Homo sapiens: one gene and its partners. The protein of the gene in region 3 interacts with the protein of the main gene of each other region in a biochemical or structural test. Each region holds a gene or a part of one and is shown on either strand. Other genes may lie near its edges.

The links.
Region 1: the proteins of PBX1 (region 3) and PDX1 form a complex in vitro, tested with the Homo sapiens proteins (one study listed by BioGRID).
Region 2: the proteins of PBX1 (region 3) and MEIS2 form a complex in vitro, tested with the Homo sapiens proteins (one study listed by BioGRID).

Annotation. Positions count from the first base shown.
Region 1 is NC_000013.11:27,918,393-27,922,819, reverse strand, and holds the start of PDX1 (pancreas/duodenum homeobox protein 1), read right to left. Parts: upstream 2,821-4,427; 5' UTR 2,682-2,820; coding exon 2,276-2,681; intron 1-2,275. UniProt on the Homo sapiens protein: Activates insulin, somatostatin, glucokinase, islet amyloid polypeptide and glucose transporter type 2 gene transcription. Particularly involved in glucose-dependent regulation of insulin gene transcription.
Region 2 is NC_000015.10:36,897,961-36,901,607, forward strand, and holds part of MEIS2 (homeobox protein Meis2), read right to left. Parts: intron 1-3,647. UniProt on the Homo sapiens protein: Involved in transcriptional regulation. Binds to HOX or PBX proteins to form dimers, or to a DNA-bound dimer of PBX and HOX proteins and thought to have a role in stabilization of the homeoprotein-DNA complex.
Region 3 is NC_000001.11:164,562,157-164,565,803, reverse strand, and holds part of PBX1 (pre-B-cell leukemia transcription factor 1), read right to left. Parts: intron 2,567-3,647; coding exon 2,493-2,566; intron 1-2,492. UniProt on the Homo sapiens protein: Transcription factor which binds the DNA sequence 5'-TGATTGAT-3' as part of a heterodimer with HOX proteins such as HOXA1, HOXA5, HOXB7 and HOXB8. Binds to the DNA sequence 5'-TGATTGAC-3' in complex with a nuclear factor which is not a class I HOX protein.

The DNA of each region.
Region 1 (4,427 bases), on a different chromosome or scaffold from region 3:
TAAACCGACATGTCTCTGGGTTCCTGCCTTAGGCTGCGGGCTTCGTATAGTCCCTGCGAGAGGGCTTCGTGAAGTCCCTGCGAGAGACTGCTCAGGGAGAGACTTCCTGGGGTGCACTATTCCCGGGGGACCTGTGCTCAGCGCGACGCGGCAGGGGTGGAGGTTGAGGATGGTGGGAAAAGGTCAAGGTCGCCAAGCCTGGGCCCTTCCCCAAGGCGCAGAGTGATGCAGTTTAGGTGCCAGCTGGACAGCGCTGCTGAAGCATTTGGGGGTCAATGTTTTTCAAAACCTCTGTTGTCATTAGCATTCAGATTCGTACTGCCAGTGAGAGCCCTTTTGTCACTTCGCTCTTCCCAGGGGCAGGTGGGTTTGCAATTTTTGAATTTCGGCTCCATCGAAGTTTCCCCTAGAGGAACGCGGGGATAGCAGCCGGCCCCGCAGACGGCTTCCAGGGGAAGAGAGGGGAGGTCGTCTCCTTCCCCGAGAGTCGAGCATGCAGCGGGTTAGAGGGCGCCAGCAAAGGCCTGGGGCCAACTCCAGCCCGAGAGTGTCGCCCTCCTTGGGTCCCCGAACCCTCGCCAAGGCTGCTGATTTGCCTTCTGGTTTTACTTTCTGGCTTCTTGGGTCAGCCTAAGCCCAAGTCCTCCAGAGCAGAGGTATCACCCCTTGGGTTGGGATAGGGAAGTTACTCCACCTCACAAATCCTCTTTCGGGACCCTGATGTCGCCCATTTCCTGAGGAAGGCCCAGGGTGGGAAAGCAGGAGCTCCGAGGGCCTAGGAGGCCAGAAGAGAGGTCTGGAGGGGAGGCAGCCCTGGAAGAAAACTGGGTGAGGACGAGGAGCCCCCCACCTTTGTTCGAGGGACTGTCCTCCCGCCTCCTAAGAACCCCGCATTTCCGGAGACTTCAAGGCCTTTGGCCCGGGCTGCGCGAGCTGGATAAATTTGCAGAGGCGCCGCGGCAGCTTCTGGCGCCCCTGTCAACTGGGTTTCGCTGGAGGTGGGGACGATTGCAGCGCAGTTCAGCCCTCGTCCTGCCTCAGGACCTTCGCCTTAGCAAGAAAGTGAACTAGGAAGAAGAGAGTCCCGTGGACCCCAGGCAAGCTGGGGTCCCCCTCCCTCTCCCGCACAAAGCCCCTCCTGGCTGCGCCTGGGGTCAGTGTCAGGCAGGGCTGGCCAGACCCCGCAGATGGGCGCTGAGGATTTTCGGGGTGGGCCGGGGGACGCCGGCTCGAGCTGCTTCCCCCTACTCCCGGCTGCCAGTTGAAAGGAAAAGGCAACTATTTGCGGTGCAGGTGTGACCAGAAGTGGCTGAGGCACGGCAGCGATGACAGTGAGTAGCGGCGACGACACAGGCCGCGCCGGAACTTGCCGCTCGCGCGGGGCCGCAAAGGACCCGGGGGCTACCCCGTGCCTCCGGCTCCCGGCTCCGGGAAAGACCTTCTGTTCTCTGCCGGCGCGGAGGGCCGCAGGAACCAGGCCTCTCGCCTCCCCACCAGCTAGGCAGGGAGCGCCCATCTCCTGAAAAATTACTTCCTGGGAAGCGGTGCGGGGAGACAGCTTCAATTGCTTTCGGTTGGTGAAAAACGAATTCGCTTCTCAGATTGCTCTCCTAGCTGCCAGGCTCTGACGTTGAGAGGCCGGCTTTCAGCCTCGCGGTGAGCCCCCGCCTTGCCCCAGCCCCTTCCTCTTTACTCCTATCCTGTTTCCACAACCAGGGCAGCCGGACACTGCTGGGTTGGGTGCAGTTTCCTTTCCCTCCCTGCCTTTCTGCACCTACCTGGCGCCCCTAGATGCCTGCCCTTCCTTAACGAAGCGCGGGAAGTGAGGGGCTCCGGGGCTCCGAAGGCGATCTGGGGCCTGGGTCCGAGGCACCCATGTCCCTACTCGGCTTCCTCGATGTGCACTACCAAGGAGTCCTGGGTTCCCGGATCCCCTGCTGGAGGAGGATCTGTAGTGTCCGAAGCCCTGAGCAGGACTCAGCCTCGGCTCTCTAAGGATGGCGCTGGGAGCGCGGGCTCCTGGGGCGAAGATGGGCTCAGCGAACAGGGAAGGAAGGAGTGTACACTCCCAGGAGAGCTGGGTGGGAAAGATGCTTCAAACTGGACTAGAGAAGCACTGCTGTGAGGGATGGGCTCGGTAGCTCCCTGATGTAGTTTAGTCCGACCCGGGATAATCCAAGGCGCCGGGAACAGAGAGAAGGCTCCTGGGAGCGCTTGGAGGTAAGGCGGCCGGGTGAGAACCGGAAAGGAGAAAGGGGTGGGGAGCCAGGCTTACCTGCCCACTGGCCTTTCCACGCGTGAGCTTTGGTAGACTTCATCCATGGGAAAGGCAGCTGGACGCGGTTGGGCTCCTCCAGGACGCCCGGCTCGGCTCCCTCCGGGAAGGGCCCGGCGGGCGGGTGGGGGAGCGCGAGCTGAGCCGGGAGGTGGTGGTGAAGGTGCGCCACCGCGGGGTCGTCGGCGAGGGGGGGCACCTCGTACGGGGAGATGTCCGGGGGGCTGCCCTGCTCCAGCGCGCCCAGGGCGCCAGGGAACGGGTGCGGCGGCGGCGGCGGGGGCTGGCGGCCCATGTACAGGCACGCAGGGGGGCTGGCGCTGAACTCCGGCGCCGGGCCTCGCTGGAACGCGCATGGGTCCTTGTAAAGCTGCGTGGCCGCGTAGTACTGCTCCTCGCCGTTCATGGCTGCGGCCCGGGATTGGGCACCGGGAGCCGGGAGCCGGGAGCCGGGAGTCGGGAGCTGGAGCCGGGGATTTGGCACTGTGTGGCGTTCCCACTCCCGGCGCCACCCCTGCTCGCTTTGACAGCTCCGCACTGATCTCAGAGGGAACCCACAGCCAGCGCGGACCGGCGGGCCGGCCGCCGCACCATAGGCTCCGCGGGGCCCCACGTGGTTCAGCCGGGGGCCGTGATTGGCCTGGCTGGCCGCACTAAGAGGCTAGGCCCAGGTACCCGCGAGCACCTGCTTTTGTTCCAATTTTCTCTCTCAGCTGAGTTTGCTGCACACTCCTGAACGGGCAGCTGGCGGTGCTCCCCAAAATGGGCGCTCACGAAAACATTAGAACCACTCATTTATAGAAACATTTTCACCGTGGCTTAAAAGTTTCTATTTTCCTATATTTTTCTATTTTCTATTTTCCTATATTTTTTCTATTATATTTGATAATGGACATAGTGTGTTTGTTAATTGATGTAGTTTACAAGGAGACATGTTGAGTTTTTAATTTTTTATTTAACTGTTGCGGAATACGATAAAAAAAAAGTTTGCAGACCCAGCTCTCTAGGTCAGAAGCATTTGATTCTATTTTATTTATGAAGTTTGTTCACAGCCACAAAGATGTCGGTTAAAAAACACACGAAACTCTGGCATTCGTTGTGTGTTTTTACTTGTGGATGTGCTGCAAGTACTTCTGGGGTGTAAACGGTAACTTCTGAAGCATTCACAGAGACTTTTTTAAATTCTTTTTTTTAAAAAATTGAAGGGTATTACAAATTTGGGTTTTGGAAAATTGGGGCCCATTTGGCCAGCCCGGAACGTAGCTTCCCAATACAGCGAGGGGGAAAGACGCGGCCTTCCTCTTGGGGCTGCGAAGCAGGGGCAGGTGTTGGCACGGGGGTTCCAGACCCTTGACGACTCTCTACGGGCCGGGACCCTGGCGGAGTTTGCCGGCAGAGAACACTCACTCTCTTCTGCTTGCAATTGAAATAAGGCAAGCAGGAGAGGGGGAAGTGGAGGAAGAGTTACATATTTAGAAAAAGAAATAAAAACGCTGCATTTTCCATGATAACATCTGTGCTTGGCTTCAAACCATTCAGTAACTTCTGGGCATTCTGGGGTCCTGACTTAAACAGGGCCACTTTTTCTGCACCCACTGACGCGGATGGATGACCTCCGGGTGGCGGTGACGTCCAACCCCCTGCCTGGGCATGATCCGCTAGGCCTGGCGGCCTGACCAGCCTCTGACTGGATACTCCCGAAATGAGGACGTTTCTCGAAACGCCACCGTGGGTTTTAGAAAAACTAGACAGCTTTGCAGAAACGTCTCAGCAAGAGAGAGCTTGAACCACAAAGAACCAAGCCAGAGAAAAATCACTGCTCCGCCTTTCCTAAACAACGCACCAACATCCAGACCTTTGAGAGTCAATCTTAATGTATTTCTTTCTTCCTACTGGAAATATTTGTGTTTTAAGTGCGGATTGAGTGCTCTATTCTGAGGACTCTTTATTTTTATTAAAAGACAAAAAAGCCAGTCGGGAATGTGGACTTCTCTGCAGATTCCTTCTCTTGCGGGAGGCCGGTATAGTCTCAGCATTTGCTTCGATGTGTGAGAACTCATGTGTGTGGCTTCCTGGCCTGTGGCCTCATGTGTGTGGCTCTGATGTGTGGCTCCCTGGCTTGTAGATGCCCTTGCTGTCACCGAAGACAGGC
Region 2 (3,647 bases), on a different chromosome or scaffold from region 3:
CCACTCGGTCGGGCCTCCTGTGAGCACTCTGGTGGGAATACAATTAAGCTGAGGAATAATAGCTGGGAGAAAACCAAAGGAGTCTTTTGCATATGGTGTTTGTTTGCAAAACAATGGACTTCTTTATTACTTAAGAAAGTGTAGCTCAGTTGTCAAAAAAGAAAGTGATCAGCTATGTAGAGGTGAAAACAAAAGGAGAGTTGAAACTGCATCTTTCTTCCCACCTGTCACCTGAAATGTTGCTGAGGAATGAATATCTGACTAGATCACAAAGACTTCCAGAAGCATCCCTCCTCCAATCAGAAAAAGAACTTAATTATCTACTCTTTCCCCACCACTTTTACAGCAACCAAGGAGGACTGACCTGATATTTCCACCCCAGGAACCGTTTTTATCAGCTCACCTTGAAACCAGCAGAGATGCTCAGGAGGGTCAGAGAAGGCTCTTCTCCTTGAAGTTTCTAATAGAGGACAACACTCGGCAGGGGTTTTACCCCCTTTTATGTGCTACTAATCCTGGTTTTTGTGTTTTGCGTTTTTTATTTTTATTTTTTTTTCGGTATAGGCTAACTCTTCGGGTAAAACGAATTGCTATTTTTTTCCCTTTTTAATTTCACTCTTTTATTCTTTACATCTGGAGGTTGTTCCCTTATTTATGTCTTTCTCTCCAGTTCCCCCAAACACTCCCTTACTCACAGAGCTGCAAGGCATCATGGTTCTTAGTTCTCAGCAGGAGAACTCCACACTGTCTTCAAACAAATACTTACGGGGAAGGTTAGAGGTTCACTCAAAGGTCATTTCTTTGGATACTAGTCAGAATGTTTACATTAGTAAAAACGAGGTCCGCTCAAAAGGTTGTTCAATGGGGGACACACAACAATGCAGAACATTAAAAAAGCATTCTGTGAGCTAGCAGGTCTTTATAGAAGCACTGAACTTGGAAATGCCACTCCAGTATAACATTTTCAACTAGTTACCATGGCATGGACTGGATGTTCACTAGCAGTTATGGCAATGGCCTTTCTTTACCCACTTCTCCTAAGCAAATATGAATAGAAGCCTCTGAAGGTTTTCACTAGGTCCTTTTAAAAAGGGTCACAGAGATTTTGCTTTTTTCACTTGGGCACCATTTAGCCTCTCTGGATTTTTGTTCTCAAACAATGTTTTTGATCCATAGTGCTATTTCTTGACAGATTCATAATTCTACCACATTCTTTCAAATCACACAGAATTTTAAAAACATATGGGCCCCAAATTTTCAGAAATCTCTTAACATGCAACTCCTGCCAATTGTCAATTCCCCTGATCTTGGGATATTTTATTGACATCATAGATATTACTATGAAAATTAACAATTAATGAGCTGACTGTAAGAAAACCCTGACATTAAAAAATGAAATTACCGCCTCCTACCAGTACTGATGACTCAGAGGCCACTCTTAGAAAATACACTGACATACATAACATGGAGCCATTTAAATTATAGACTAAAACAAATCAAACTAGAAATAATTTTTATTTATTTAATATTTGTAAGATGAAATTTCCATATATGGTCTTTTCTCAAAATTACATGAAATAAATTTTTTTCCACATCTTCTAATCTATATTTTTTAGAATGACCTTTTTCAATGCTCAAGTAGTAAATAGAATATCAAGCTTTGATTTTACGTAAAATTTGAAGAAGCTAAGTTGAAAATCAACTCATCTTCAGTCTTTCAAGGTTCAGGCTCCATTCATATGGAAAAATGTAACTTGCTGGTTCAAAGACAAAAGACTTGTCTTAAAAAGACTCAAAAGGTTCCATGGATATTAAATGGGCCTTATAAAATAACATTTTGATGAGTTAAGTGTAAATGAATCAGACACATATGGATTAAGTTATCCTTGAATTTCACACGGGTTTAAAAAATAAGGGGAAAAGAGGGTCTTGGCAAAAAACATTTTGGACTTTGCCAAACCCAAAACATTTGAAAAATTGCTGAAGACATCCAACTAACCAAAATGCAGCAAGCTGCACCCAACTTTAATGAAAACCCCCACAAGTTATTTCCAATCCAAAGACTGTTAGATTTTTCATCTGTATCTGATATTAAAAAATTCTCTAAGTTTTAATGTCATACCAGAATGATTTCGAAGTTGCAGGCATATAATCTACTTTTCTATCGGTTTAAACAATTTAAGTTACAAAGTCTTCTTCAATATTAAACAGTTCTTAAAAAACATTCTGAGTTTTTTTACAACTTGTCCATAAAATGTACCAGTAAGCTTAGTGTCTAGCTCTATCTAGATTTCACTTAGAAAAAAAATTTTCATTAGCCTCATTGTGACTTTTTTTAAAGGGCTACACATAATTTCATTAGTGAGTCCTTAGGGAATGAATACCCTAAAGAGCCCTAGTTCCATTGATTTGTATTGAACACAAAGTTAGTATCCAGGCCCATACAAAAGCTTGGGAGAGTATCTACTAAGACTATCTACTTTTTCTCTAAATTTTACTTAAGTAGAAAATGCATGAGTATGTGTGATCCTTAAAAATTATATACTAAGACTGTTAGTTTAAAAATAACTTAATTATAGAAATAAATTCAATGATGTTCCAAGAATCACGAGGCCTTTCTGACTCAACTCAGAGATGAAAAAATACATTAAAACAAATAAACCCAAGGTAGCAAATATCACTGTAATCTCATCTTACTGCCTTGCTGAAGAGCTATTTCCCAGAGACCTCTCCTGTCCTCAGAAAGTCTAAACTTGGTAGCTTTGCATACTTTTCTACAACTGAACTCTGACCATCATGATTTTTCTTTAAAGACTTTTTACTCCGAAGTATGGTTCAGATTGATAGAAGTAGATTTAGGTGTCATTCCTGTTTGTTGTTGGTTTCTTTTCTTTATTCCTTTCTTTCTCCACCCCCCAATCTTTTTAAATGGCGGATAAATCCCTTCTTTCTGGTTCACTAACTTCATGCCACACCTGGTAACCAACTCCTTTTGGAGGCATTCCTTTTGTTAGAAAGTGCAGGCCTCCATGGAGTTACCTGGAAAGCTGCCATCCCTGAACACTCTGAGGAGGAATCAAGAATAGCTGGAATTGAAGATTCTGCATGGATTGCTTTGCGCAGGGAAGGGGACTGAACCGTTGAAGAGAGATCAGATCAACTGGGGAAAGGCGTAGGTAGCTCAGTGACCGGGGACCTGTTAAAACATGAAAAGGCCCTGCTTCCCTACTGTCCCCAGCCCTGGGACCCATCAGCCACAGTGCTTATTCACAGCACTTGCTCCTGGCTGGTGTTTCAAATGATGAAACTTCAGCCTTGGCAAGTCACTTATCAAATTTCTCCATGTTTTCTTACTTTACAAAAAAAGCAAGTATTTCTCTGTGCTATGGTTACAGCTGAGAGTAGGATTTTCTCAGTAAGATACATTAAAATGGTTAAATCAGTGAATAAGGCAAGCTTAATGCCTTTGAAGATGAACTTGGGCACGCAAATGATGGAGTCATGTCGCAGACATAAGTTTTCCACTGGTGACCAGACAATGGCTCCTTTCTCACAGACAACCGTGAGCAAAGTAAGGTAAATGAATGAGATTCATATGTTACTTAGGGACAGACTCATGGATCATAATGAATTTCCCTAAGCAATAG
Region 3 (3,647 bases):
GCGATGTTTTCACCAGCTCTGTATCAAGAAGAAGAGGGGGAAAAAAAAAAAAAAGCTCCTGCAACTTTACAGACACTTTGTTCCTCCGACCCATCAACTGCATGAAAGATATGCTGGCAAAAAGATTGAAGGTTCCAGGGTCTTGAGTAGCCAAGTAATCGTGCTTTAGAATCAAAGGGTTCTTTTCAGCAGACCACAGTTGACTCCTACCTTTAACACAACACTCAACATTCCAGGAGAGGTTTTTGCCTTCCCTTCAATCCTTCCAACACACAAGTTGAAGACTAAGAGGGAGGTAAGCCTTTTTTTTCCCCTACTTTCACCCAGGGGTGCCCTCTTAATCCAAGACTTGTGTGTGTGTGTGTGTGTGTGTGTGTGTGTCCCTTAACACAGGGGGCAATGACTCTTATCACTTTCAATTACATTATTTGTAAATTGTTTTTTTAAATATGTTATTCTAGAGACAACACAAAAAACCTTAATTTAGATTTTTTTAAGTCTCTAAACATTAAATGTATTGACACAAAATTTAAAATACAAAACTTTTAGAATGTTACTTTGACCAATACGACTGACTACTTTACTTCCTATCATTATACTTGAGCCAACATGAACAAGGAGCGAACTCTTTAACCCTCACCTGAACCGGATCTCTATTCACACCCACCCACTTTAATCTACTGCCTCAGTAGGTTTTAATTAGGAAACTAGAATTAAGCACTTTGGCCACAATGTACATTTAAGTGCCCTGACAGGCTTCCTTTCAATAAAAATCTGATAAAGTATCTTCAAAAATAGACTCTCTTTAGTCCATATTATCACATATGCTTTTATATTTTGATTCTACATTTCATGAAACAAGATCAGCAGGAACTCATACTTGGTTAGAAACAAATCTCAACAAACCAAACACTCAAAGTAAATAAGCATCAGAGATCAAAGAAGAAAAAAGAGAGAAGATAAAAAAATATATATAAATATATATATACACACACACTTAAGTTTCCTACTCTGGGCTAATAGAAAAAAGAAACTAAAAAGTGTGACAAACTGGAAAAAACTCTTTTGATATTTGAATGCACAGTCCATAAATCTTTTAAAAGTTGTCTCACAGCTAAAATAATGCAATTAACAGGTTTGCAATAAGGTTAAGCTTTGGCAAGGCAACCTGGAAGACTTAGAGGTCTGAACATCACTTCTCAGGTGCTTTGTCTAGAATGTTATGCACAACACAAATAACATTCAACAAAGGAGCTGCGTACTAATTTTACACGCATTTCAAGACCCAAGTAATTACATATTCATTCAACAGTCACATCTTGAAACTATTTTTTTAAAAGAAAAACACAGAGAGCTCTCAAAAAGAAAGCCACCCTGTGTGCCCTCTCCCCCCGCCCATTTTTTATGTGTAACTATCAATGTATATCAACCAAGCATGCAATCATATTTATTGTCACTTTCATTCATGTCATGCCCTTGCTTATATGGTTTAGATATGAATTATTGACTGTTACACTCCTTGTTGTAAAAAATAAATAAATAAATAGGATGTCAGGTACTTTGCACTGCTCTAAAGCGAGCGGGTAAGTCAGAGCCCAGCAGAAGCTCCCGCTTTATATAACCACCCCTTGTCCCTCATCTTTATTCCCTGGTTTCAGATTGCCTTCTCAAATCTTTCTTCTTACAAGGGAGAGCTTTACCCACTTTGGAAAATTAAGGATTAAAATAAACAAGGGGATGTCGCTAAATGTCCTTCCCAGAGCATCTGTTGTTTAAGAACACCTCTGATTGATGACTGCTATTTTTTAATTGTTGCTTTAAAATTTAAATGCCCTCCTGGGATGTGTTATAAGTGTGTTAGTCCACGAAACGAGGTCTAGAAAGTAGAAAAACAACAGAGTGAATTATCTCATGGCGTTATACTCTCCTAAACCCAACGATTCTCCCTGCAATAAAATCACAGGCCACTCAAATACCGATAACCTAATGTTGTATAGCGCATTCCACAAAGGTATTTGACAACACTCTCTGTTGAGAACCTCTAGTCTGCTGCTTTGTGTAATTACAAGAAAAAAAGGAAAGGAAACTTTCAACAGTTTAGCACCCCCACACCCAACTCCAAAAAAATTAGGGTTTTAAAAATGGGCCAAAATATATTCCTTAAAAAAATGAACTTTTACTTTCATATTTTTGCCCCAAAGATACATCAGTCTATAAATTTCCTTTCAGAATCTATATTTTAGCCCCAATCTCAAAAAGGCTGGAAATAGAGTTCTGGAAAATTAACCAGTAGTGCTTGATAATAACTGTCAAAGAAACTTGATTCTTTTTTTTAAGGAAAGCAGGGCTAGGACTTCCTATTCGAATATGAGGTCAACCTTCATAGTACTTGTATTCTGAAATTTTAATATTTAAATAATAGATTTGTGACTGCTGGTTAAGTGATTTAATTGGCCAAAGAAAATGCTAAAATGTTGGAATCTCATTCCTACCTGTTTTTTCTTTGATTTCACACAACACATTAAACAAGGCAGGCTTCATTCTGTGGCAGTTTAAAGCATGTTTTCTGCAAGAAAGAAACAACATGATAGCTTAGGTGGACTCTCAAGATCAAACTGCCGATAATGCACAGGGTGAAAACATTTGAACATTTAGACAAAATTATATACCCAACCCTAACTCTGTGGCATGCTTCAGTTGTTTTCATGACTTAATATACAGAGTCCCGCCATAGAAAAAGAAATAATGTTAATTAGCAGGGAGAGGGTAGGGATTTAACTACAGAACAGAACTAACCTAAATTATGCCCATTTAGGGAAAGGGTTTTTTTTTTTTTTTAAGTAGTTTAATCAAAGAGTAATTCTTAAACCCACAATTCTTCCCAGGACAATGAACACAGCAAAGCCAAAGGTGTAGGTTAACAGTTTTGTAAAATCCATGCAACGACCACAGCCTAGGAACTGTCTGCCTCTCGGTCTGTGTGTTTTCAAATTTAATTCATCCATGTGTTCGAATTCATTCCGCAGATGCCCCTGTATTCTCATAAACACAAGATGCTTGAAAGGTCTTCTGAGTAGAACTGTCAATTTATAACATTTCAGTCCCCAAGTTAAAGAGTATGGAAATGCATTGCCAGGGGGCAAACATACCCATATGGGGAATAAATTCATTTCTCTGTGTTCACATTATGCTTCTGTGCACACACTGCTTATTTGCAGGTGTTGAAATTCAATTATTTACAATTAGGACCTTGCACCCATTGGGGGAAAAATAAATGCAATTTTGTCTTTTAGATTAGTGATTTACCTGGTGTGTGTGTGTGTGTGTGTGTGTGTGTGTGTGTGTGTGTGTATTCTGAATGCACTTGAGGAACAAAACAATACCTTTCCTTCTATTTTATTATGGAACCACTTAGCAGAATGATACTGTTTTGGAAACAAAATACTGATCATATCAGCTATTAGTTAAGTGAATTCTGTCTACTAACTAAAATTAATGTGTAAAGATAAATGGAAAGTTCTGGCACTCAAAACACATGCAATTCTTTTTTAATCCCTTTGAAAGTTAAAAAATAGACACATCCTCATGAAGAACAGAGATCAGAAACATGCCCTATGTACTGTACAGCAGGGGAGTAATAAAGTCAA